7 linked regions of the Homo sapiens genome follow. The protein of the gene in region 2 purifies or fractionates together with the protein of the main gene of each other region. This does not show direct contact. Each region holds a gene or a part of one and is shown on either strand. Other genes may lie near its edges. The genes, in order: WDR19, DNAJC7, DNAJA2, WDR35, TANGO6, GREB1 and IFT172.

Region 1 (3,500 bases), on a different chromosome or scaffold from region 2:
TAAAAACAAAGAACAGATTAGTGATTCCCAGAGGTTAGAGATGGAGCTGGGGTCAGAAGGAAGGAGGTGAGTGTTTATAAAAAGGCAACATGAGAGATCCTTGTGGTCATGGAACTATCTATATCCTGACTATGGTTGTGAGTCTCATGAATCTCATGTGTGAGAAAGTTACTAAACACACACACTGAGTACAAGTAAACACACACACTAAGTACAAGTAAAACTAGGGACGTCGGAATAAGATTTGTGGTTTCTATCAATGTCAGTATCCTGATTGTGGTATTATACTATAGTGTTTCAAGATGTTACTATTGGGAGAAAAGGGGACATGGAATCTCTCTATCTCTCTATATTGCCTCTTACAACTACCTGTGAATCTGAAATTATCTTAAAAGTTTAATTAAATGAAAATAATGAGGGAAAAAAGGTAAGAGGAAAACACTGGAAGAGAAGAGAAGGAGAAAAGGAGGTTAGGAGGAAAGAAATGTTACAACTATTAGTTCCCAACATTGTACTACACAACTTTCATTTACATCAACTTACTTATTCTTACTACAACCTTATGAAATAATGTTATGCCCGCATTTTTCAGAGCTTTCAACCTGATCCTTCTGATCCAAATTTAATGTTCTTTCTATACTATAATTCACTTCCTTTTGTATGAAAGAACTCTGGGCAGGGGAGAAAGGGAACACATTGTAAAGAGAAACCTGTATCATCTTACAATAATTAATACTACTCAGGAGAATATTTTCGTACCCAAATTTCTTCAGGACAATTTTAACCTCCTTATTCCTGAAGCTATAGATCAGAGATTAAGCCAGGCACAACCCTACCCGCCCCCCATCTCTGCACACAGTAAGCAAACAAACAACAACAACAAACCCAAAAGTTTAAAGATAAAATATAATGAAGTACAGAAATTCTAATATTTTCTTAACCCAGTAGATCATTCTGTACATCACATTTTGGAGACCAGTAACCTATTCCATGGTTTGTAATTTTTTGTGAATTAAAACAGTTTTATATAAAGATCATATATATTTTTTAATAATGCATTTTTGTTTTTCAGCATTAAAATCCAAGACTTGGTTGACTTAAAAGACATGTATGTTATACTCAACCTGGATGAGGAAAATAAAGGTATTGATTTTTCTGAAGCAGATTGACATTTTATCATTCCAGTTACAGAGAGTAAGGTTGTGTTTGTTATCGTGTGATTTGCATTCGTTGTAGGAGGAATAATTTTTTTTTTTTTTTTTGAGATGGATTCTTGTTTTGTAGCCCTGGATGGAATGCAATGGCATGATCTCTGCTCACTGCAACCTCCACCTCCCAGGCTCAAGCTATTCTCCTGCCTCAGCCTCCCAAGTAGCTGGGATTACAGGCACGTGCCACCACGCCCAGCTAATTTTTGTATTTTTAGTAGAGATGGGGTTTCACCATGTTGGCCAGGCTGGTCTCGAACTGCTGACCTCAGGTGATCCGCCTGCCTTGGCCTCCCAAAGTACTGGGATTATAGGCGTGAGCCACTGTGCCTGGCCAGAAATAAATTTTAATACTCTTCACTAGAGTTCCCTAAAATAGTCTCCTTATTTTAGTAATTATGTTGTCATACTGCTTGACTAGAAAGATATGTCTACTTTGATCCAGAGATTTATAGTGAATTTTATCCTAATTCTAATGTAAAGTATAAATTCTTATATACAGTCATGACCCACATAATGACGTTTCAGTCCACATACATGGTCCATATTTACTACCTTTTCTTTGTTTCTTTCTTTCTTTCTTTCTTTCTTTTTTTTTGAGACAGCGTCTTGTTTTGTTGCTCAGGCTTACTGTACATTTTCTATATTTAGATATGATTCAATGTGCAAGTACTTACTGCTGTGTTACATTTGCCTGCAGTGTTCAGTACAGTAACATGCCATACAGGCTTATAGCCTAGGAGCAATAGGCTATACCATATAGCCTAGGTACGTAGTAGGCTATTTGATCTAGGTTTGTGTAAGTACACTCTATGATGTTCACACAACAACAAAGTCACCTAATGACAGATTTCTCAGAACATAGCCCTGTTGTTAAGTGACACATAACTGTACTTTCCCTTTGAGCCACAGGGAATGAGCCAGTGCTCATATTCTTATGCCAATCCATGGCAAATTTCCTAGTCTAAAAAAAAAACTACTTAAACTAGTAAGGAAAATATTTGAAAATTGTTATGTCTCTGGTAGCTTAAATGAAAATATTTGTTTGCTGCCTGCAACTATATATTGTTTTTGAATAATCATTTATTTTGTCGATTATTTCAGGATTGGGTACCTTGTCCTGGACTGATGATGGCCAGTTGCTAGCACTCTCTACCCAAAGGGGCTCACTTCATGTTTTCCTGACCAAGCTTCCCATACTTGGGGATGCCTGCAGCACAAGGATTGCCTATCTCACCTCCCTCCTTGAAGTCACCGTAGCCAACCCTGTTGAAGGAGTATGAAAATGGTGTTATTTTTCTTTTATTTATTAATAAAATAAGTTTAGCCGTTGATTTATTACTATTTTCTTTATTATAGGAGCTACCAATCACAGTTTCTGTTGATGTGGAACCCAACTTTGTGGCAGTAGGTCTTTATCATCTGGCTGTAGGAATGAATAATCGAGCTTGGTTTTATGTCCTTGGAGAAAATGGCAAGTCTAAATCCAGTTGTTTATTCTTATCTAGCACATAATTTCTGTTCTTATTTGGGAAGCACTGCAAGTTTCTTTTAGGACCAAGTCTTTCACTCTTTTTTATTCACATATCTCATTCTTAGCTTAAATGGTTTTGTAAGTCTTCTAAAAATTTGCATAATTTTTAGAAAGCTTTTATTCTTTACCTTTGTAGTGAAGGCAGCATAGCATAGTGGGTAGAATGTGAGCTTCAGAATTAGAGAGGCCCTGGATTTAATTTCCCCTTCTGCCTCTGTTAGCTAAGTGACTATAGACAAATCATTTTACACTTGTGAGCCTTACTCATCTGGAAAATGAGGATACTTCTACTTTTAATGGATCATGAGGAAGATTAAATAAAATGCGTGGTCTCACTTGGCACAGTGACTTTTTTTAAGCACTCTTAAACCTAGTGGGTACTTAATAAATGTTAGTTCTGTCTCCCCTTTTATTCTTTGAATAATAGCTATTAGCATGTGAGGAAAACCTTGTTTTGTTTTTTCTTCCCCTGCCTCCTCCCCATCACCTTTCCCCAATTCTAGGTCAGATAACCCTCAGGAATAGAACAAACCTGAAAATTAACCTGTTAAACAGGAAATACCATTAAGTTTCTTGCAACTTAAGGTTTAATTCTTTAATTGTTTTGCATATAATTTTATTTTCTATTACTTTGTTTCAGGTAAACCATAATGGAATGCCTGAAGGCAAATTTATATGGCAACTAAGATTAAAATGAAATTTAATCTTTAAGATTCAATTTAATTATTTAATCATTTAAGATTAAAATGAAATTTTAA
Region 2 (3,500 bases):
ACAGAGCAGGACTCCATCTTAAAAAAAAAAAAAAGAAAAAGAAAAAAGAAAATCTACCCAGACTTAGGTTCCTCACTTTAGCCTCACCACACAAAAAATGAAATGAAAACGACAGGGAGGATCTGGAACCAGAAAATAGGTGCCTCATGCCCCAACCCAAGATATCTGTTCACTTTTTTTTTCTTTTTTTTGTTTTTGTTTTTGAGATGAAGTCTCGCTCCGTCACCCAGGCTGGAGTATAGTCGCGCAATCTTAGCTCACTGCAACCTCCGCCTCCTGGGTTCAAGGAATTCTCGTGCCCCAGCCTCCTGAGTGGCTGGGATTACAGGCGTATACCACCATACCCACAATTTTTTGTATTTTCAGTAGAGATGGGGTTTCACCATGTTGGCCAGTCTGGTCTCCAACTCCTGATCTCAGGTGATCTGCCTGCCTCAGCCTCCCAAAGTGCTGGGGATTACAGGCGTGAGCCACCACGCCCAGCCTTTGTTCACTTCTTTCTGGCTGGTGATCAAATAAGTTCTAGGTAGATCCCTGATCCCTGAATCAAACTACCTTGTGTACAGATTTATGGCCTACGAAGTCCACACAGTTCCCTAAAAAACAAATGCTTTTAAACTTACCTTTTGTTTTCTCTGTCTGGTATACTTTTTCATAGTCTCGTACTGCTTCTTCATACTGTTCTGTGTCCATGTAACTGAGAAGGAAATACAAGGCAATACAGCACTAAGACATAAATAGCAGTGGTTCTCAGGATCACTCTAGGGCAAGAGGCATGGCTCAAGCAAGAGACACACACTTCTGGTAAGATGCTTCAGAAACAGGAGCCCTTAATCTAGCAGTGAGAGAAAATTAGCTAACAAGTCCTCAAGGAAATAAAAAGAGAGGTCGCATGGCACTTGCATCCAACCAGCAAAGTGATGTTCAGCTTTGAGCAGAAAGTAATCAAGAGGAAAAAGTTCCTTCTGACACACAGCCACCTAAGAGGTACTGGACTGCCTTAGAAAAGACAATGTGAAGGGATCTACTTGATTACTTTGGGTTGAAACACACAAGAGAAAAATTATCAAGTGAATAAATGGGTATGAAAGAGCTTTGAAACCTATAGTGCCATAAACATGCAGGACTAGCTACAATCCAGAATAGAGGTGGGATTAGTGAGCCACTAAAAGGATCAAGTTCAACGTGGCAGCTGCTGGCAAATCCCTCCACTAAGACCAATCAATGAGAGATGCAGGTAAATGAGACAGAAAAGGGAACTCTAAACACAGGTTTGCTTCTATTTCAGTAGCACAAAAGAAAGGAGGGGCCCTTGGCCCAAGATCGGAGGAATCAAGCTTGACAGGATGATTGCGAGATCTTTTTTTTTTTTTTTTTTTTTTGAGATGGAGTCTCGCTCTGTTGCCCAGACTGCAGTGCAGTGGTGTGATCTCGGATCACTGCAAGCTCCGCCTCCTGGGTTCACGCCATTCTCCTGCCTCAGCCTCCAGAGTAGCTGGGACTACAGGCGCCCGCCACCTCGCCCAGCTAATTTTTTATTTTTTTTTTTAGTAGAGACAGGGTTTCACCGTGTTAGCCAGGATGGTCTCCATCTCCTGACCTCGTGATCCGCCTGCCTTGACCTCCCAGAGTGTTGGGATTATAGGCGTGAGCCACCGCACCCGGCCGACTGCCAGATCTTTTAAGTGTCTCTTCCACAGAAGCAAGTGGCATTTTCCATGCCCAGATAAAATCACTGGCACCAGGGCTGGCCTACCAATTGAAGACTGTGGTAGGAGTTCCAGAGACAGCCACTGTCAGCTGGGGAATGGGAAGTGATCATGCAGTACAGCTAGCTGCTGTACAACAGAGATTCAATTTCTTACCTGCTACCACACAAGCCCATTTTCTTTCTTTTTTTTTTTTGACACAGAGTCTCACTCTGTAGCCCAGGCTGGAGTGTAATGGCACGATCTCTGCTCACTGCAACCTCCGCCTCCCAGGTTTCAAGTGATTCTCCTGCCTCAGCCTCCTGAGTAGCTGGGATTACAGGCATGTGCCACCACACCTGGCTAATTTTTTGTATTTTTAGTAGAGATGGGGTTTCACCATGTTGGCCAGGCTGGTCTCGATCTCCTGACCTGAACCGATCTGCCCGCCTCGGCCTCCCAAAGTGCTGGGATTATAGGCGTGAGCCACTGCGCCTGGCATAAGCCCATTTTCACAAACATCACAGATCCCCACCAGCTTGGAGGCCAGGGCAGGAGAGTGCTACCAATGTGGCTGGCAAAAGAGAAGCCCAACATCTTGGGCATCTTTGATTTTCTGGCATCATTTTGATTTATGACTTTAAAAAAACCAATGGCCTGCAAATACAGGACATAAATATTATATTAGGAGTTCAGAATCAATGTACAGAATAAAATGTAATAATTTGAAGTAAGAGAAATGATACTTTGATACTGCACTCCAGCCTGGGTGACAGAGCTGGATCCTGAATTAAAAAAAAAAAAAAAAGGAAAATTGATAGCTGATAGCCCTGGGTATAGAATGATGTGACAAATGATTAACCCTGATGAACTTTCTTTAGGTCTATATGTAATGTATTAAACAAACTATACTAATTTGCATTTTTACTTCATGCTTTTTAAAATTCAGGGATATCCTCACATTTTAATTTTGTTTTAAAGTTGAAGTAGAAAAGTAAATAGGGCTTTAAGGAGAAAGGGTGAACTCTAGCTCATGATGGCATGTGTAGCAAAGATGTGGGTGGGTGGCATCTCCCCAGCTTTAGGGGTAAGTTGAGGCAGACTGCAGCAGTAGTCAGGCCAGATGTAAGGGTTTGGCCCGAGCTAATCTCCAGTACTTCTTGTCAATTCCAGCTGCTTCAGGAGATTGTTGCCAAATATTCAGCCAGCTGAACAGGGCATGCTGTCTCCCCTGTAGTGATCTCAGAGGCAGAGCCACTCCAAGAAGGGCAGTTCTGTTTCTACCACAAAGATAAGAAGTTGTCTGATCAAAGCAATTCCTTATTTTCATTTCTTGCACATAAACAAAGAAGAAAATAATCCTTCATCCAATTATCCTCCGAGCAAATCAAGAATTTTCTATGGTGTTGGGGGCTTGCTTAAAAAAAAAAAAAAAAAAAAAAAAAAAAAAAAGGCCGGGCGCGGTGGCTCACACCTGCTGGTAATTCCAGAACTTTGGGAGGCCAAGACAGGCAGATCACTTGTCATCAGGAGTTTGAGAACAGCCTGGCCAACATGATGAAACCCCATCTCCAATAAAAATACAAAAATTTGCTGGGTGTGGTGACATGCGCCGGTAATCTCAGCTACTTCGGAGGCTGAAGCAGGAAATTCGCTTGAACTCAGGAGGTGGAGGTTGCAGTGAGCCAGTACGGTGCTACTGCACTCCAGCCTGAGCGACATAGCGAGACTCCATCCCGAGCGACATAGCGAGACTCCATCCCAAAAAATAAAACAAAGCGATTTTTCTCTTCTCTTCCCATCCCCTGGCAT
Region 3 (3,500 bases), on a different chromosome or scaffold from region 2:
TTCGAGGGAGCAGTGATCTGTGATCATACCAGTGCACTTCAGCCAGGGTGACAGAACAAGACCCTGTTGCAAAAAATAAAAGATAAAAGTGTGAAAGTAATTACTCCATTATGCCTAAGCCCAGTGAACATAGAGAAACAGTAGATTTGTATTGTGTTAGTGAAAGGTGACTCTTTTTAATTCAGAAAAGAGGAGCAAGGTGATTATTTGTCCCTTTGCTATTTCCTTCTTTATCAAATATAACCTTTTATTTACTCTCTCTGTAGGAATGACCACCATAGGAGGACTATCTCCTTTATCACATAGAACCTTTTAAACTACAAAGGGACAAATAATCAAATAATAAATAACTAAACAAGTAGTTGTTTAGTTATTCTGATAAGTGGAAGATTTCACTGTAACCTTTAGTTAGCTTTTCAGAATTGATCTTGAGATTGAAGCTGTCCTTACAGAAGTAAATAATTTAGTCTTTGTGGGCCAAATAGTTTTTGTCACAACTACTCATCTCTGACCTTTTAGTGCTTTTATGGCCACAGACACATGGATATGGCTGTGTTCTGATTAAAATTTTAATTATAAAAACACATAGCTCCTCCCACCCCTGCCATTCTAGAGCAGTGCTATCCAATAGAATTTTTTTCTGTGATGATGGAAATGTTCTGTATCTGCAGTGTCCAGTACAGTAGCCATTAATCACCTGTGACTACTGCATATTTCACATGTGGCTAGTGTGACTGGAGAACTATTTTAAATTTGAATTAATTTAAACATAAACAAGTAGCTACAGGTTGATAGTGGCTACCATATTTGACAGTATAGTTCAATAGCATCCTTTTCCAAATTGCTATTGGAAGTGATGAGATAATTATGAGAAGTTACATATGATATTTCCTTCCTGGAGAGTCTTGGCATTTTACTTTATTTTTTTAAATTATTATTATTTTTGGAGATAGGGTCTTGCTGTCGCCTGGGCTGGAGTGCAGTGGCACACTCTCGGCTCACCGCAGCCTCCACCGCCCACGCTGAAGCAATCCTTCCACCTCAGCCCCTCGCCCCACAATTAGCTGAGACCATAGGTGCTTGCCACCACGCCCAGCTAATTTTTGTATTTCTTGTAGAGATGGGGTTTTGCCACGTTGCCCAGGCTGGTCTCGAACTCCTGGGTTCAAGTAATTCTCCTGCCCCAGCCTCCCAAAGGGCTGGGATTACAGGTGTTAGCCACCACTCTTGGCCTGCTTTTATTTTATTATAATTGCTAACTCCCACTATCAAGAAACCAAAGTTAACTGAAATCTTTCTCATGTACCATTACATTTTTCTTTTTTCTTTTTTTTTTTTTTTTGTGAGACGGAGTCTTGCTCTGTTGCCCAGGCTAGAGTGCAGTTGCGTGATCTCAGCTCACCGAAGCCTCTGCCTCCCTGGTTCAAGTGATTCTGCTGCCTCGGCCTCCTGAGTAGCTGGGATTACAGGCGCCTGCCACCACGCCCGGCTGATTTTTGTATTTTCAGTGGAGACGGGGTTTTGCCGTGTTGGCCAGGCTGGTCTCAAACTCCTGACCTCAGGTGATCCTCCCGCCTTCGCCTCCCAAAGGGCTGGGATTACAGGTGTGAGCCACCATGCCCGGCCACTATTACCATTTTGAAGAACGTGTTTTGCAGAACATACTTTGCACAAGTACTGTTACAGAAACAGTCCCTAAATAATCAGTTATACACTTCTTTCTAAGCCTTCAAATGTGCTGGTAATTAGCCATTAGAAAGTGACGCAGTTTTTTCACACTATAATATGTATAATCACGGTTTTGCTTTTTAATACCATAATTATAAGAGAAAAGCTGTGTTGCCCTAAACATGGTATGGATACATTACATTCTGAAATAGTGGGAAGCTGAGTCCTTCAGGCAGTCTGCAGTAGTAAGATGTAAGTTTTTGTTATTCAGAATAGTGCTTTTTTTTGTTTTGTTTTGAGACATGGCCTCACACTGTCACCCAGACTGGGGTGCAGTGGCATGATTATAACTAACTGCAGCCTCGAACTCCAGCAGTCCTCCCTCCTCAGCCTCCCCAGTAGCCAGGATTACAGGTGTGCACTACCACGCCGGCTAACTTTTTTTATTTGTAGTAGAGGCAAGGTCTCACTGTGTTGCTAGGCTGGTCTCAGATCCTGAGCTCAAGTGATCCTACCACCCTGACCTCGCAAAATGCTGGGATTGCAGGCTTGAGCCACTGTGCTTGGCCTCAGAATGCTGCTTTGAATAAAAATTTAGGTAGTGATTAAAAGAAGTCCAGAAAGCATATTTAAAGAATAAGGGTATTAAGAGTACAGTATAGTACTCTTGCTGAAAGTTTCAATGACTTCTCTTTCCAGGAGAGGTAATTAATGAAAAAGACCGCTGTAAAAAATGTGAAGGGAAGAAGGTGATTAAAGAAGTCAAGATTCTTGAAGTCCACGTAGACAAAGGCATGAAACATGGACAGAGAATTACATTCACTGGGGAAGCAGACCAGGCCCCAGGAGTGGAACCCGGAGACATTGTTCTTTTGCTACAGGAGAAAGAACATGAGGTGATTTTCCTTTTTTTAGTTTTTTGTATTTTGTTTTATTCAGAAGTACTTCTTGCTTGTGAGAAATAGGTTAGATCTGTTTGGAGTCCCTGGAGCAACACTGAACACTGGTGAAGTTAAGGGCATCATGGTGAGTTCCTAAGACGGGCTTGTGTAAGAAAGACTAACAAGGCAGGTGCAGTTAGAAGCACTGTAAGAGTCAGTTTTAGTCCTGGCTTGGTTTCTTCCCCCTGCCCCTCAGTTGGAGTTTCACTCTTGTTGCCCAGGCTGGAGTGCAATGGTGCGATCTCGGCTCACTACAACCTCTGCCTCCCGGGTTCAAGTGATTCTCCTGCCTCAGCCTCCCGAGTAGTTGGGACTACAGGCATGCTTCTTCACTCCTGGCTAATTTTTATTTTTAGTAGAGACAGGCTTTCTCCATGTTGGTCAGGCTGGTCTCAAGCTCCCAACCTCAGGTGATCTGCCTGCCTCAGCCTCCCAAAGTGCTGGGATTAAAAGCGGGAGCCACCGCGCCTGGCCTTGGTCTTTTTTGTGTGTGTGTGACGGAGTCTTGCTTTGTTACCCAGGCTGGAATGCAGTGGCACGATCTTGGCTCACTGCAGCCTCCACCTCCCAGGTTCAAGCGATTCTCCTCTGGCCTGGTCATTGACTAACACTTTAACCATAGGTAATCTTACTGTCTCAGTTTCTTTGTTTATGAAAATAAGGGCACTGGGTGTTGGACCAGTTGATCTAAGGCAGCCTGTATTTTCACTGTGAAACTCTGCTGCTCTGTCGATTTGGTTTTTACTTATTGGGTACCCAAGTGAGCTATCCTTGAAAGGGTTCTGGGATTTTTTTTAAAAAAAATATTTTTTTAGAAGCTTCTGAAGAATGTGGTCACTAGTGTATGTTTTGGGGGGTTTTTGTTTTTGAGATGGTCTTGCTCTGTCGCCC
Region 4 (3,500 bases), on a different chromosome or scaffold from region 2:
CTTAAGATCTTCATAACATTTGTATTTTAAATGAAAATTTTAAATGCTATGTTTTATGTGTAACAGATTTCTAAGCCAAGATTAATTTATTGAGATGACATTTTAATATTCTCTGTAGGATGGTTAGTAAATTTTTAAGACGTCTTTAGAGGTTTTCATTGCACTTTGGATAAAATCTAAAATTCTTATCATTTTCTACAAATACTTCATAGTTTTTCTTGTGCCTATCACTCCAGCCTTGTTTGATGCAATTTTCTCCCCTGTTCATCCACATAGGCCTTCTTAGAGTTTGTCAAGGGCTCTAGTTGTCTACCTCAGAGCCTTTATGTTGCTGTGTCCTAGCCTGGAATACTCCCCTTCTTTCTCTACCTTTCCTGGCTATCTCCAGTTTACCTCTCAGTCTCAGCTTAAATATCAGTTCTTCTGATAGCCTTCCCTGGTTCCCCATCAATCTAAATTAAGTCACTTCTGCTACTCTTTCTTATTATGCTTTCACATTCCCAGTTTATAGTTACATTTATGTGTATGTGAGTATATATTTAATATTGGTCCCTTAGACTGAAAGCTCTGAGAAGAAAGGGGAAATGACTGTTTTGTTCACCATTTTATATGTAGAACCTTTTGTAATGCATAGCACAGTGTACACATTTCATAAATATTTGTTAAATGAATGAATAAATGAGTGAATATAAGATTCTGTGTAATCTAGTAAAAACCCATTTTCAAAGTCTATGCTCTTTTGATCCCTTGTAAGCTGTAGAGTTTTCAATCTGTAGGCCATAAATATTTCTATTTGTGGTCTTTTGGAAAGGAATAAAAAGCAGTGATGATTATTAATATATGTAATGTATGAGTAAACAATCTTCATTTATATATTTTGCTTTATTTTACCAGAATATCTTTGCAAGGGGTATGTGTTATTGTTCATGTTTATACCATGAGAAAAATATATCAGAATGGGGCATACTTAGAAAAATGATTAATACTGCCCAGGAATACAAAAAGAGTCAAAATCTTATAATATGTCACTTTTACATATTTATCATAGTAGTTTGTTTTGTTTTGTTTTAGATGATGCAAAATTGAGGGGCCTTGCAGCCCCCAGTAACCTTTCTATGAATCAGACTCTTGAAGGTCATAGTGGTGAGTCATTCAATTTCTTTTAAGTCATGTTTGAGTGGTATTTAGGCATTTAGAAAGTTTCTACTTAATGCAGAAATGTCAACATTTTAAATAATGGTAATATTTACAGTACAGATGCTCTTTGAGTTACGATGGGGATATGTTCCAATAAACCCATTGTAAGTTGAAAATGCATTTAATACACCTAACCTACTGAACATCGTAGCTCTGCCTAGCTTACCTTAAATATGCCCAGAAAACACTAGCCTACAGTTGGGCACAATCATCTGACATAAAGCCTATTTTATACTAAAATGTTGAATATCTTATGTAACTTATTGATTTCTGTACTAAAAGTGAAAAACAGAATGGTTGTATGGGCACTCGAAGTACGGTTTCTACTGAATGTGCATTGCATTCCCATCACCGAAAAGTCATTTAAGTAGTACCATTGTAAGTTGGGAGCTGTTTGTAATCATTTCTGTTGAGACATAAGTAATACAACTTAGAGTCATTCAACTTTTACATGATTAAACAACATCTTAAATAAATCTAGAAGAAAATAGCTGTTTTTAATATATTGAAAATACTCCTGTCTATGGATGTTGTATATATAATCCTTTTTAGAATCTGTCCTATGATTCCAGATTAAAGGAGACTGAAGAGACTGGGTGTAGTGGCTAACACCTATAGTTCAAGCACTTTGGGAGGCCAAGGTGGGAAGACTGCATGAGGCTGGGATTTTGGAACCACCCTGGGCAACATAATGAGACCCTGTTTCTACAAAAAATAAAAAAAATTAACCAGGCGTGGTGCTGTGTGCCCGTAGTCCCCAGTACTCAGGAGGCTGAGGTGGGAGGATCGCTTGAGCTCATGAGTTGGAGGCTGCAGTGAGCCATGATTGTGCCACTGCATTCCAGCCTTGGTGACAGTGCAAGATCCTGTCTCAAGAAAAAAAAAGACTAAAGACTGAAGATGTATAACAACTAAATGCACTGTATAATCCTAGATTGGATCTTGGAATGAGAAGAACAAGTGTCTATAAAGGACATTATTTGGACAATTGGTAAAATTTGTATATGGACTGTGAGTTAGATAATAGTATATCAGTGTTAAACTTCCTAATTTGTAATATGATTATGGAAGAGAATGTCTTTATTTTTAGGAAATGTACACTAAAGTATTTAGGGATTAAAAAATTAAAAGTCATCAATTATTCACGTACCCTAGAGGTTTAAGATATGCTCAAGAGTGTTTTACTAATAGAATGGAAAACGAGTGAGAGGTGGGCAGAAGAGAGATTATAGGACATATCTACCAAAAATGATAAAAGTCCCCTAAACAAGTACTTGTTATGGTGTCCTTTGAACATCATTATTTTTGGGAGTCAGGCCAATTGAGTAAACCATGCTTGTATTTGTTTCTGTCATCAGGTATATGGTAGTTCTGGTAGCTAGCCATGATTGGTGTCTTTACTGGGATGAAATAGGGATAGATATGAAAAATAGTATTATGCATTGTTGTAGAAAATTAGTGATATCAATAACTGCATCTTATGAATAGGTTTTGAGGAATATTAAAGACTAGTTAGCTGTACAGGAACCATATTGATTTTAACATGATCTTGGTGTTTATATAAAAATGTGAATTTGAAATTAATTGTAACCTTTAAGTTTCTAAATTGTTTTATAATGTTCTAGGTTCTGTTCAAGTTGTAACATGGAATGAGCAGTATCAGAAGTTGACTACCAGTGATGAAAACGGGCTTATCATTGTGTGGATGTTATATAAAGGTATACTTTACTAGGAGAGATTATTTAATTTTTCACAAGTTGGCATCTGGATCACAGTATTTGGATGGGTAAATAACATCTCCAAAATAGACCCCTTTTACTAACAACAGGAGTTCATCCTGACTGCACAGTGATAATATTTCTGGATTTATTGCTGCCTACTTTTCACTTTTTTAAAACTTTAACCCTGTTATTAAGAAAGTGAATTAGGTGACTGTTGGCCATCTCCAAAATGAACTTAGACTCTTAGCAGAAGAATAGCTTCTACTTGAGATAAGTCTTTTTTTTTTTCCAGATTTCCAATAAGAATTACTTCTAGGTAGTTCCAGTTTATAATTACATTCATGTGTGTGTGAGTGTGTATTTAATATTGGTTCCTCAGTAGACTGTAAGCTCTGAGGGGAAAGGGGAAATGACTGTTTGTTCATTTTATACGTAGAACCTTTTATAATACATAGCACAGTGTACATGTTCAATAAATATTTGTTGAATGAATGAATAAATGAGTGGCTAGAGTTATCTCAGTAGATAAAAACACATTTAGTAAGAAGTCAAAGGGAATAATTCACTTCCTGCATGGGCCAG
Region 5 (3,500 bases), on a different chromosome or scaffold from region 2:
TTCACCGAGCCCAATTTGGGTGCTCTATAGAACTGCTTGGGAAAATTCCCATTATTTCAAGCTGTTATATAGAACTCCAAAGAGCAGACAATCCTTCTTAATTGCTGTTGCTTTCAAGCAGCCTCATTTAGAGATGTCTTACTTTCTGCCATATTTAATAAACCTGCCACAGTAGGTACTTAATTAACAGTTTTTGAATGGATGGATAAATGGAAGGAAGAAAGAATAAAAGGAAGAAAGGAAAGGTGATGTCTAATGAAGGAGGCATGATTTGTTTTGTTTTGTTTTGTTTTGTTTTGTTTTGTTTTGTTTTTTCAAAAGGGCATGAGCTCAAAAAGTTGAAAAACACTGCCCTCACCCATAGTGAGCAACCTCCAGATCTGGGCACACCCATGGGAGTGTTGTGAATGTTAGTCATGTGTTATCAGGGGCAAAGGAGAGCCATGCTTCTTGTTTTCACAGGCTTTCACTTGATTATCCTCTAGGTAATCCAGTCTTTTATCAGAATTTCCCTAGAGTGGAGAGGCATCCTTCAACTGCTTGTATGCAGGTGATCAAACTGGCTAAAAAAGCCCTTACTTGCAAACCACAGTGCCTCCAATTTTACAACTTAAAAAGAAAATGACTTTCCAGTTAACTAAGCTGACTAGTTCTCTCTAATTCTTTTGCTTTTGAGATTAAACCATCTATTTCTGGAATTGTCTTCATTGTGCTCATTTATACACATCGTTAAAGATTTTCAGAGCTTTGGCCAGGTGCCAGTGGCTCACGCCTATAATCCCAGTGCTTTGGGAGGCCGAGGCAGGAGGATCACCTGAGGTCAGGAGTTCCAGACCAGATCAGCTACTCGGGAGGCTGAGGCAGGAGAATTGCTTGAACCCAAGAGGCAGAAGTTGCAGTGAGCTGAGATCACACCATTGCACTCCAGCCTGGGCAACAAGAGTGAAACTCCCTCTCAAAAAAAAAAGGCTCCTCAGCTGGGCACGGTGGCTCATGCCTGTAATCCCAGCACTTTGGGAGGCTGAGGTGGGAAGATCACCTGAGGTCAGGAGTTCGAGACCAGCCTGGCCAAAATGGCAAAACCCCATCTCTACTAAAAATATAAAAAAATTAGCCGGGTATGGTGGCGGGCACCTGTCATCCCAGCTACTTGAAAGGCTGAGGCAGGAGGATCGCTTGAACGTGGGAGGCGGAGGATGCAGTGAGCTGAGATCATGCCATTGCACTCCAGCCTGGGTGACAAGAGCAAAATTCCGTCTCAAAAAAAAGAAAACAGAAACAAACTCCTCACATAGCTGCTGCCACCCAGTGCATTTCCCTGGACAACCCCAGGGGCTAGATGTTCAATGAGTAAATACCCCCATACAGGTTGTGGGCACCTGGTTGTCCAGCCCGAGGCCAGGGATCCCAGGTCACACCCTTGATCAGGGAGGGATCAAGGTGCTTCTGCCATGCCCAGGATTGAGAACTCTGTGGATGCAAAGAGGGGTGGGTGGGAAGCCTGGTGTGGTGGCTCACGCCTGTAATCCCAGCATTTTGGGAGGCTGAGGTGGGCGGATCACATGAGGTCAGGAGTTTGAGGCCAGCCCCGGCAACATGGCAAAACCCTGACTCTACTAAAAATACAAAAATTAGCCAGGCATGGTGGCCGCACCTGGAGTCCCAGCTACTCAAGAGGCTGAGGTGGGGGAATCGCTTGAACCTGGGAGGTGGAGGTTGCAGTGAGCCAAGATTGTGCCATTGCACTCCAGCCTGAGCAATAGAGCAAGACTCTGTCTCAAAAAAAAGAAAAAATTGCAATTCCCTAATGACTTATGACATTGAGTATGTCTTCCTATGCTTATTTGCCATCTGTATATCTTCTTTGGTAGGGTATTCTTCTTTGGTAGACCTATCTGTTAAGGTCTTTTGCCCATTTTTAAGTCAGGTTGTTCATTTTCTTATTGAGTTTAAAGAGTTCTTTGTATATTTTGGATATTAGTCCTTTTTCAGATATGTCTTTTACAAATATTTTCTCTCATTCTGTAGTTTGTCTTCTCATTCTCTTGACAGTTTCTTTTGCAGAGCAGACATTCTTAATTTTAATAAGGTCCAGGTTTTTAACTATTTCTTTCATAGATCATGCCTTTGCTGTTGTATTTAAAAGGTCATTGCTTTTAAGAGGTCATCTCAATTTTCTACTATGTTAACTTGTAGGAGTTTTATAGTTTTGTATTTGACAGTTAGGTTTATGATCCATTTCAAGTTAATTTTTGTGCAAGGTGCAAGGTCTGTGTCTAGATTCATTTTTTCACATGTGCATGCCAGTTGTTCCAGCACCATTTGTTGAAAAAACTGTCTTTTCTACTGACACTTGTTCCAATTAAAAAAAAAAAAAAGAAAAAAGAAACTGTATTTTTTTTTCCATTTAAAGCCTTTGCTCCTTTGTCAAAGTTCAGTTGACTCTATTTATCTGGGTCTATTTCTGGCCTTTCTGTTCTGTCCCATTGATCTATTTGTCTTGGCTGGTTTTTTTTTTTAGAAGAAATTGTTATATAGAAGAGAAATTAAAAAAGAGGCCAAATAGACTGTAGGTAAATTATTCTCATTTTAGATGCTTTAAAAAAGTCCATGATACAACCGAGGCACTGAATGAAGTTTAGCATAATGATAATACTAGTATAATTATTTGAAAATGTCTCGGCCGGGCACCGTGGCTCATGCCTGTAATTCCAGCACTTTGGAAGGCCAAGGTGGGCGGATCACCTGAGGTCCGGAGTTCAAGACCAGCCTGGCCAACATGGTGAAACCCCGTTTCTACTAAACTATAAAAAATTAGCCAGGCATGGTGGCGTGTGCCTGTAGTCCCAGCTACTCGGGAGGCTGAGGCAGGAGAATGGCGTGAACCCGGGAGGTGGAGGTTGCAGTGAGCCGAGATTACGCCATTGCACTCCAGCCTAGGCAGCAGAGCGAGACTCCGTTTCCAAAAAGAAAAGAAAAAAATAAAAATAAAAAGGATTTTTTTTTCTTTTTTTTGAGACAGAGTCTCGCTCTGTTGCCCAAGCTGGAGGGCAGTGGCGTGATCTCAGCTCACTGCAACCTCTGCCTCCCGGGTTTAAGCGATTCTCCTGCCTCAGCCTTCCGAGTAGCTGGGACTACAGGCACATGCCACCATGCCCAGCTGATTTTTGTATTTTTAGTAGAGGTGGGGTTTCGCCATGTTGGCCAGTAAAAAGGACTTAAGATCCTTAAGGTATTCAAATTTTCAGGGTCTCCTGAAGCCTCATCTGATAATTTCTCCAGTGTTTTCAAACAGAAAAGTATTACCATTGATTCTTACTTTTCATTGATCACACATACACCTTTTGGGTGGCAGTGGGTGAGGGGGGTGCTTTCCAGTGAAGACCAGAAAACCTGCTAGACAAATTCTAATAGAGCTGTAACACTCATGCACCTTTCTTAGTAGTAAGGCATATGACATTATTCAGACAAAGCTTCCATGGAGAATAAAATGTTATATA
Region 6 (3,500 bases), on a different chromosome or scaffold from region 2:
CTCTGGCCCCCCAAAAATCTTGAGCTGGACCAAGCAGTTGGTATTTACTAGGTGCAAACCTGTAGTATAATGTTACTGAGCATTTCATAGAAAACGGTGCCCTCTCTTGGATTTCTTCTTTTTCAGATTTCTGTTTGCTATGTGAGCTCCAGGCCCCACTCTTTAAACATCAGCTGCTCGGACTTGCTGTTCAGTGGGCTGCTGCTGTACCTCTGTGACTCTTTTGTGGGAGCTAGCTTTTTGAAAAAGTTTCATTTTCTGAAAGGTAACTTTTGTACTCTTAACTCTGCACCTTGTCTTCAATGGCTGTAGTCACCGGGTACCCTGAGGAGGGGACCTTTGGTCCTAGTCCTTATTTGCCCATGGGTAAACTGAGGATCAGAGAGGGAAGTGACTGCCTCAGCCACCCAGGGAAGTGCAAGAGAGCTGGGATTTGATCCCCGGGGGCTCTCTTTCCCCTATACCTGTTTGGGTAGAGGCAAGACACATCCCCCTTTCTTTTAGATGAATTGCGGACATTTTTTAGCCTTTGTGTTTCTTTTCTTTCTTTCTTTCTGGTTTTTGAGATGGAGTCTCGCTCTGTCACCTTGGCTGGAGTGCAGTGGCACGATCTTAGCTCACTGCAACTTCTGCCTCCTGGGTTCAAGTGATTCTCGTGCCTCAGCCTCCCGAGTATCTGGGATTACAGGTGCCCGCCACCACACCCAGCTAATTTTTTATTTTTAGTAGAGACAGGGTTTTGCCATGTTGGCCAGGCTGGTCTCGAACTCCCGACCTCAGGTGATCCACCTGCCTCGGCCTCCCAAAGTGTTGGGATTACCGGCGTGAGCCACCGCACCAGCCATGTGTGTTCTTTTCCAACCCAAATCCTTCACATCGGTGTCCCAGTCGTTGCTGACACTCTTCCTCCTGGTAGACGAGTCTTTCTCCTCATCCTGGGAGGTGCCACACCACCTTGGCTTTTACGCCAGTCTTCCTCCTGTCTGCACCAGCTTGGTTGAGAATGACAAGCACTTGTTCTGCATGACTTGAAAACACGATTTCCAGTCTGCATTTCCAGTCCTGCTCAGATCCCTAGCTGACCTTCGCTTTCCTTGGTGGCCCTTGGCTCTGACCTTCCCCTCTAGCAGGCACTGAATGAGCACCAGCAGCATCTAAGGCCTTGGGAAAGATCAAGAGGTTTTACAGCAGTCTCTGCCTTGGGAAACATTTCATCTAAAGGGAGGACTGGACACAAAGGTGGGGAGGGAGCAGAGAGGGACAGTGTGGAGGAGACTGGGTTGAGGTGTCGCCAGGTGCTGGGAGTTGAGAGGAAGGGGAATTCCTGTGGCTGGCACGTGGGACAGTGGGGGCTGCCCCAGGCCTGGATGGGTGGCAGAAGAGGGGGATGAAGCTGTAAGGTGGGGTAGGTAGGGTGGGGTATGTGAGCTACCGGCTGGGGCTGAGGATGCTTGGTTTGCGATTCCACCAGCCTCTCTCCTTCCTCTCCGCACCTCGGTTCAGTCCCTGCTCGGCTTTCCTTCTGCCTCCGTGTTTTCTCCCCCGCACACCTGCCACATCCCAGCCACACTCCTGTCTCGCTAAGATTGTACATCATCCCGAAAGAAGCAAGGGGCCGACTTGGATGCCGCTTCTGCCCTTCCCAACAGCGCCCTGTCTTGTCATTGCAAGTAGAATCCGGGCAGCCGCTTTCCTCTGGATAAACTCACCTTTTCCCTTCCCACACCTCTGCCGTTGTCCACGCAGGTGCGACGTTGTGTGTCATCTGTCAGGACCGGAGCTCACTGCGCCAGACGGTCGTCCGCCTGGAGCTCGAGGACGAGTGGCAGTTCCGGCTGCGCGATGAGTTCCAGACCGCCAATGCCAGGGAAGACCGGCCGCTCTTTTTTCTGACGGGACGACACATCTGAGGAAGACAGCGGCGAGTTTTCTGAAGAGATGAGTGCTCAGAGCCCTCATGCTGTTGAGGCTAAAGGGAGGCCTGGAACGGTGGGGCGTTTGACTGGAATGGACCCCAGGGACTGTCCAGGTGCAGCCCCTCCTAGTACACATGGGCCCCCGAGGCCGTGGTCCTGGGAGCCAGGAAGACTCCGCAGTGGGTGAGAATGAAAACTTGAGACTCCCAAGTTCTGGGCCAGCCCATTGCTCTGGGCTGTTTTAAAGCCCATTTCACGAGGAACAAAGATTTACTTCCTGTCCTGCCATTCGTGTGCTTCCATGGACAAACCTGATTTTTTTCTCTTAGTTCTAAAGAATCTTGGGTTATTTTGTAGCGGTGCCAGTATTTCAGTAGATGGGATTTCAGCCAAGTAGGTTCCCCTGTAACCTCCTACAAAGCAATATTCCAAAGGAACATTTTAACTGTAAAGGCTGGAGACAAGAAAAAATAAGTAGATCGTTTTAATAACAATTATTTAATTGCCTATAAGTTTGCTGTTTCAGAGGCTAGCCCAAAGGCATCAAATTTAATAAAGTTAAACAAATTGATTTACTTCAGAGCAAATATGATCCTATTAAAATAATATAGGGTAAATACCCTACCTCTTAGAAAGGGCAAAAATGCAAAGAAGCTTTCTTTAAAACTAAAAGGGTTTTTTGGGGGGGGAGTTGGCGGGGAGGAAATAAGGCTAACAGAGGTTGACCTAAAATTAGCCTTACAAAGGAGAAAGGACCACATTGCTTACTTGAAACAGACAATGAAAACAACCAAAGTGATATATAAAATAGTTGATGAGAACTAGACTTATGACTGTAGTTTACTAGAGTTTAGTTTTCAGTTGCTGAAGTAGCTCATTTTCTCTTACTAATGTTTGGTTCCTCAGGGAAGAATCTCACTTGACTAGAGAGGAGGTGGGAACAGAAGAGAGAAGGAGGCAGGGAGATGTATTTCTTAGGGCTCACCCCTTCACAGACTGACAGAATGGTTTTGTTTTGTTTTGTTTTGTTTTGTTTTGTTTTTGAGATGGACTCTAGCTCTGTCACCCAGGCTGGAGTGCAGTGGTGCGATCTCGGCTCACTGCAAGCTCCGCCTCCCGGGTTCTCACCATTCTCCTGCCTCAGCCTCCCGAGTAGCTGGGACTACAGGCGCCCACCACCACGCCCGGCTAATTTTTTGTATTTTTTAGTAGAGACGGGGTTTCACCATGTTAGCCAGGATGGTCTCGATCTCCTGACCTCGTGATCCGCCCGCCTCGGCCTCCCAAAGTGCTGGGATTACAGGCGTGAGCCACCGTGCCTGCCCCAGAATGGTTTTTAAAGCCACAGTTGAGAGGCCACCCATTGCCCGGCGCCTGGACAGTGATCATCTTGTTCATCTTGTTCAGTCCTTTCTTGTGTGATTGGAATTATTCATCCCCTTTGAAAGATGAGAAGGTTGAGATGCAAAGAGTCTACCTTTCCAAGTTCTCACTGCTGGAAAGAGCTAGAAGCACAGTTCAAAGTTCTGGCTTCTGGACTCTGCAGTCCAGGTCTCCCTTCTCCCACTTGCCTACCCTCAATGC
Region 7 (3,500 bases), on a different chromosome or scaffold from region 2:
CCTATAGTCCCAGCTACTCGGGAGGCTGAGGCAGGAGAATGGCATGAACCTGGGAGGCAGAGCTTGCAGTGAGCCGAGATCATGCTACTGCACTCCAGCCTTGGGCAACAGAGCAAGACTCTGTCTCAAAAATAAATAAATAAAATTAAAAAAATAAAAATAAATAAAAATAAAAATCTGCCACTGTCCCCCAGCCCTTGCACACACACACATACCCATTTCTACACACAAAGCCTGTTTCTCCTCCCTTTGGCCCCACTTCCAGTGACTTTCTCTTCTAGCTATGCCCTTCTCAGATCCCCTTCTTCCCTCTACCTCTAGAACTTCAATATCTACAAAAGGATCTTCACTGACATGGTGAGCTCTCCTGGAACCAACTGTGCCGAGGCCTATCATAGCTGGGCTGATCTTCGAGATGTCCTCTTCAACCTGGTGAGGAAGCGAAAGGGCTGCTCCGTCTGTCCTTGTCCTCATCTCTTCTTTGATGCACATAAACCTTTATTCTCAGATGTATTTTACCTTCCTCTGCCAGGTGGCTATCAGAGACCACTCTATGGCCCTGGCACTCCTCTGACCCCTGAGCCAGGCTGTGCTGTCTCCCTCCTCTAGTGTGAAAACCTGGTGAAGTCCAGTGAGGCAAACTCTCCAGCCCATGAGGAGTTCAAGACGATGCTGCTGATCGCTCATTACTATGCCACGCGCTCTGCAGCCCAGAGTGTCAAACAGCTGGTGAGATGTAGGGGGTCGAAGGAACACTCAGTCAGAAGGGCTCATCTGCAAATGTATAAAGCTGAATTGATTCACGTTCTGGATTCTTCAGCTTGGGCTCTTGAATCTCCCCACCTGTCTTTCAGCTTCTCTTCTGTCTAAACAAATCTTTAGCCCTTGCTGAGGTTTTCTTCTTCCGACCTTTTTAGGGCTCTGTGCCCACACAGCCTCAGCCTCATTATGTTTAAACATCCAAATCCCATGATTTCTTTATTCACCTCTTATAATGTACACATATTCTGGGCTTATTTTTGACTGTTCACTGTATATTTATTTCATGTACTTGGATGATAGAATTCTAGAAGTGGAAAGAACCTTAGAAACAATCTAGGTGGGTGGGTGTGGTGGCTCACCCCTGTAATCCCAGCACTTTGGGAGGCCGAGGCGGGTGGATCACTTGAGGCCAGGAGTTCGAGACCAGCCTGGCCAACGTGGTGAAACCCCATCTCTACTAAAAACATAAAAATTAGCCAGGTTGGCCGGGCGCGGTGGCTCACGCCTGTAATCCCAGCACTTTGGGAGGCCGAGGCGGGTGGATCATGAGGTCAGGAGATCGAGACCATCCTGGCTAACAAGGTGAAACCCCGTCTCTACTAAAAATACAAAAAATTAGCCAGGCACGGTGGCGGGCGCCTGTAGTCCCAGCTACTCGGGAGGCTGAGGCAGGAGAATGGCGTGAACCCGGGAAGCGGAGCTTGCAGTGAGCCGAGATTGCGCCACTGCAGTCCGCAGTCTGGCCTGGGCGACAGAGCGAGACTCCGTCTCAAAAAAAAAAAAAAAAAAAAAAAAAAAAAATTAGCCAGGCATGGTAATGTGCGCTTGTAGTCCTAGCTACTCAGGAGGCTGAGGCACGAGAATTACTTGAATCCGGGAGGCAGAGGTTGCAGTGAGCTGAGATGGCACCACTGCACTCCAGCCTGGGCGAAAGAATTGAACCTAGGCCCAGGTGTCTTGTTCAGAGAAAAAGAAAAAAAAAACTAAGACCCAGAACAGCTTGAGAATCCAGAGCAGTTTAATAATAATTGTTGTTTTTTAGTTCTGTGGCTGCCTTACAGGATCATTGGTCTGGTAGCTCAGTCACTTTAGTGCCATATTCATAATGCTTTGACTTTAATCCCAGGAAACCGTGGCTGCCAGGCTTTCTGTTTCACTCTTGCGTCACACCCAGCTACTACCTGTAGACAAAGCCTTCTATGAAGCAGGCATTGCTGCCAAGGTGAGCTGGGACAAGGAAGGGTGGGGCAGATAGGAGGAAGTTAAAGGTTGGAAAATAGAATATCCCTTCTGCTCTGGTAGAGGAAAGCTGAGTGTAGGGCTGATGTTACGGAGGATGTAGTCCTCCTATGTCTTCCTGGATTTTTCTCCCTGGATCCCAGAGAAATAGCATTCAAGCCCAGCTTGCTCACTCCCATTTGCATCTGGATCCCAGAGAAGTAGCATTCAAACCCAGCTTGTTCACTCCCATTTGCAACTCTTCTTTGCTGCAGGCAGTTGGCTGGGATAACATGGCATTCATCTTCCTCAATCGCTTTTTGGACCTGACCGATGTGAGTAGGGAAGCTGTGCCCCGAGGGTGGAGGTTTTTGCCAGTCGCGAGCTGTGCCTAGTTCATGGTTGCCCACTCTACTGCAGGCAATCGAGGAAGGGACTCTAGATGGCCTTGACCACTCTGATTTTCAGGATACAGACATTCCCTTTGAGGTGCCACTCCCAGCTAAGCAGCATGTACCGGTAAGGGCACAGGGTTGGAAAACCGGAAGGCCTCACCAGTGTGAGTGCCTTGAGGAGGGAGAATATCTTTGTGCTGCCATCTTTGGAAGGACCTCAGCCCTCACTGTTTTTTCAGTGAAAGTAGAAGCAAAATAGAAAGAAAAGGCTGTGACTGCATCCCCCAATCCAAGGAGGATTCGTGGCTAAAAGCTGGTATACAGGATGAGGGCTTAGCAAACCCCCTCCTCACCCATCCACCCCAACTTGTCCTGCCCTGCCCTGTGTGAAGCTACCACTCCCTTCTTGTCCTTTCCAGGAGGCTGAGAGAGAAGAGGTTCGAGACTGGGTGCTTACAGTCTCCATGGACCAGCGGCTGGAGCAGGTTCTGCCTCGGGATGAGCGTGGCGCCTACGAGGCCTCCCTAGTGGCAGCGAGCACTGGTGTTCGAGCCCTGCCCTGCCTTATTACAGGTATAGAAGCCTACAGCACCCCAGATCCTGTGGTGGGTAGAAAGCAGCAGGATCAATAAACTTAATTTTACTAGGATTCAGTAAAGGGTACAAAAGACAGGACTGTGCTTTCTACCCCCCAGGCTGCTCCTCATTTTTCCCTCCTCAATCTCTCTCAAACCCCAGTTCATCATTTTTTCTTCCTCCACAGGATACCCCATTCTGAGGAACAAAATTGAATTTAAGCGGCCAGGGAAGGCTGCTAACAAGGACAACTGGAATAAATTCCTTATGGCCATCAAGGTTAGAGAGGAGGACTTGGAGAATGAAGGCAGAGAGGGCAGCACTAAAAAAAGAAAAAAAAACAAGTCTGGGTGCAGTGGCTCATACCTTTAATCCCAGCACTTTGGGAGGCCAAGGTGGGCGGATCACCTGAGGTCAGGAGTTTGAGACCAGCCTGGCCAACATGGTTAAAACCTCGTCTCTACTAAAAATACAAAAGTTAGCCGGGTCTGGTGGCGTGCACCTGTAATCCCAGCTACTCAGGAGGCTGAGGCAGGAGAATCGCTTAAA

Evidence for each region.
Region 1: the proteins of DNAJC7 (region 2) and WDR19 purify together in Homo sapiens (affinity purification with mass spectrometry; 2 studies listed by BioGRID and IntAct, with this or other methods). This does not show direct contact.
Region 3: the proteins of DNAJC7 (region 2) and DNAJA2 purify together in Homo sapiens (affinity purification with mass spectrometry; 2 studies listed by BioGRID and IntAct, with this or other methods). This does not show direct contact.
Region 4: the proteins of DNAJC7 (region 2) and WDR35 purify together in Homo sapiens (affinity purification with mass spectrometry; 2 studies listed by BioGRID and IntAct, with this or other methods). This does not show direct contact.
Region 5: the proteins of DNAJC7 (region 2) and TANGO6 purify together in Homo sapiens (co-immunoprecipitation; 2 studies listed by BioGRID and IntAct, with this or other methods). This does not show direct contact.
Region 6: the proteins of DNAJC7 (region 2) and GREB1 purify together in Homo sapiens (affinity purification with mass spectrometry; 2 studies listed by BioGRID and IntAct, with this or other methods). This does not show direct contact.
Region 7: the proteins of DNAJC7 (region 2) and IFT172 purify together in Homo sapiens (affinity purification with mass spectrometry; 2 studies listed by BioGRID and IntAct, with this or other methods). This does not show direct contact.

The regions. Positions count from the first base shown.
Region 1 is NC_000004.12:39,213,529-39,217,028, forward strand, and holds part of WDR19 (WD repeat-containing protein 19), read left to right. Parts: intron 1-1,072; coding exon 1,073-1,143; intron 1,144-2,312; coding exon 2,313-2,485; intron 2,486-2,567; coding exon 2,568-2,682; intron 2,683-3,500. UniProt on the Homo sapiens protein: As component of the IFT complex A (IFT-A), a complex required for retrograde ciliary transport and entry into cilia of G protein-coupled receptors (GPCRs), it is involved in cilia function and/or assembly.
Region 2 is NC_000017.11:41,982,940-41,986,439, forward strand, and holds part of DNAJC7 (dnaJ homolog subfamily C member 7), read right to left. Parts: intron 2,969-3,500; exon of another isoform or gene 698-2,968; coding exon 624-697; intron 1-623. UniProt on the Homo sapiens protein: Acts as a co-chaperone regulating the molecular chaperones HSP70 and HSP90 in folding of steroid receptors, such as the glucocorticoid receptor and the progesterone receptor.
Region 3 is NC_000016.10:46,963,675-46,967,174, reverse strand, and holds part of DNAJA2 (dnaJ homolog subfamily A member 2), read left to right. Parts: intron 1-2,367; coding exon 2,368-2,564; intron 2,565-3,500. UniProt on the Homo sapiens protein: Co-chaperone of Hsc70. Stimulates ATP hydrolysis and the folding of unfolded proteins mediated by HSPA1A/B (in vitro).
Region 4 is NC_000002.12:19,980,106-19,983,605, reverse strand, and holds part of WDR35 (WD repeat-containing protein 35), read left to right. Parts: intron 1-1,071; coding exon 1,072-1,143; intron 1,144-2,822; coding exon 2,823-2,915; intron 2,916-3,500. UniProt on the Homo sapiens protein: As a component of the IFT complex A (IFT-A), a complex required for retrograde ciliary transport and entry into cilia of G protein-coupled receptors (GPCRs), it is involved in ciliogenesis and ciliary protein trafficking.
Region 5 is NC_000016.10:68,923,531-68,927,030, forward strand, and holds part of TANGO6 (transport and Golgi organization protein 6 homolog), read left to right. Parts: intron 1-3,500.
Region 6 is NC_000002.12:11,638,545-11,642,044, forward strand, and holds part of GREB1 (protein GREB1), read left to right. Parts: intron 1-126; coding exon 127-265; intron 266-1,746; coding exon 1,747-1,910; 3' UTR 1,911-3,500. UniProt on the Homo sapiens protein: May play a role in estrogen-stimulated cell proliferation. Acts as a regulator of hormone-dependent cancer growth in breast and prostate cancers.
Region 7 is NC_000002.12:27,444,744-27,448,243, reverse strand, and holds part of IFT172 (intraflagellar transport protein 172 homolog), read left to right. Parts: intron 1-321; coding exon 322-432; intron 433-609; coding exon 610-729; intron 730-1,762; exon of another isoform or gene 1,763-1,888; coding exon 1,889-1,984; intron 1,985-2,255; coding exon 2,256-2,315; intron 2,316-2,400; coding exon 2,401-2,499; intron 2,500-2,794; coding exon 2,795-2,948; intron 2,949-3,138; coding exon 3,139-3,230; intron 3,231-3,500. UniProt on the Homo sapiens protein: Required for the maintenance and formation of cilia. Plays an indirect role in hedgehog (Hh) signaling, cilia being required for all activity of the hedgehog pathway.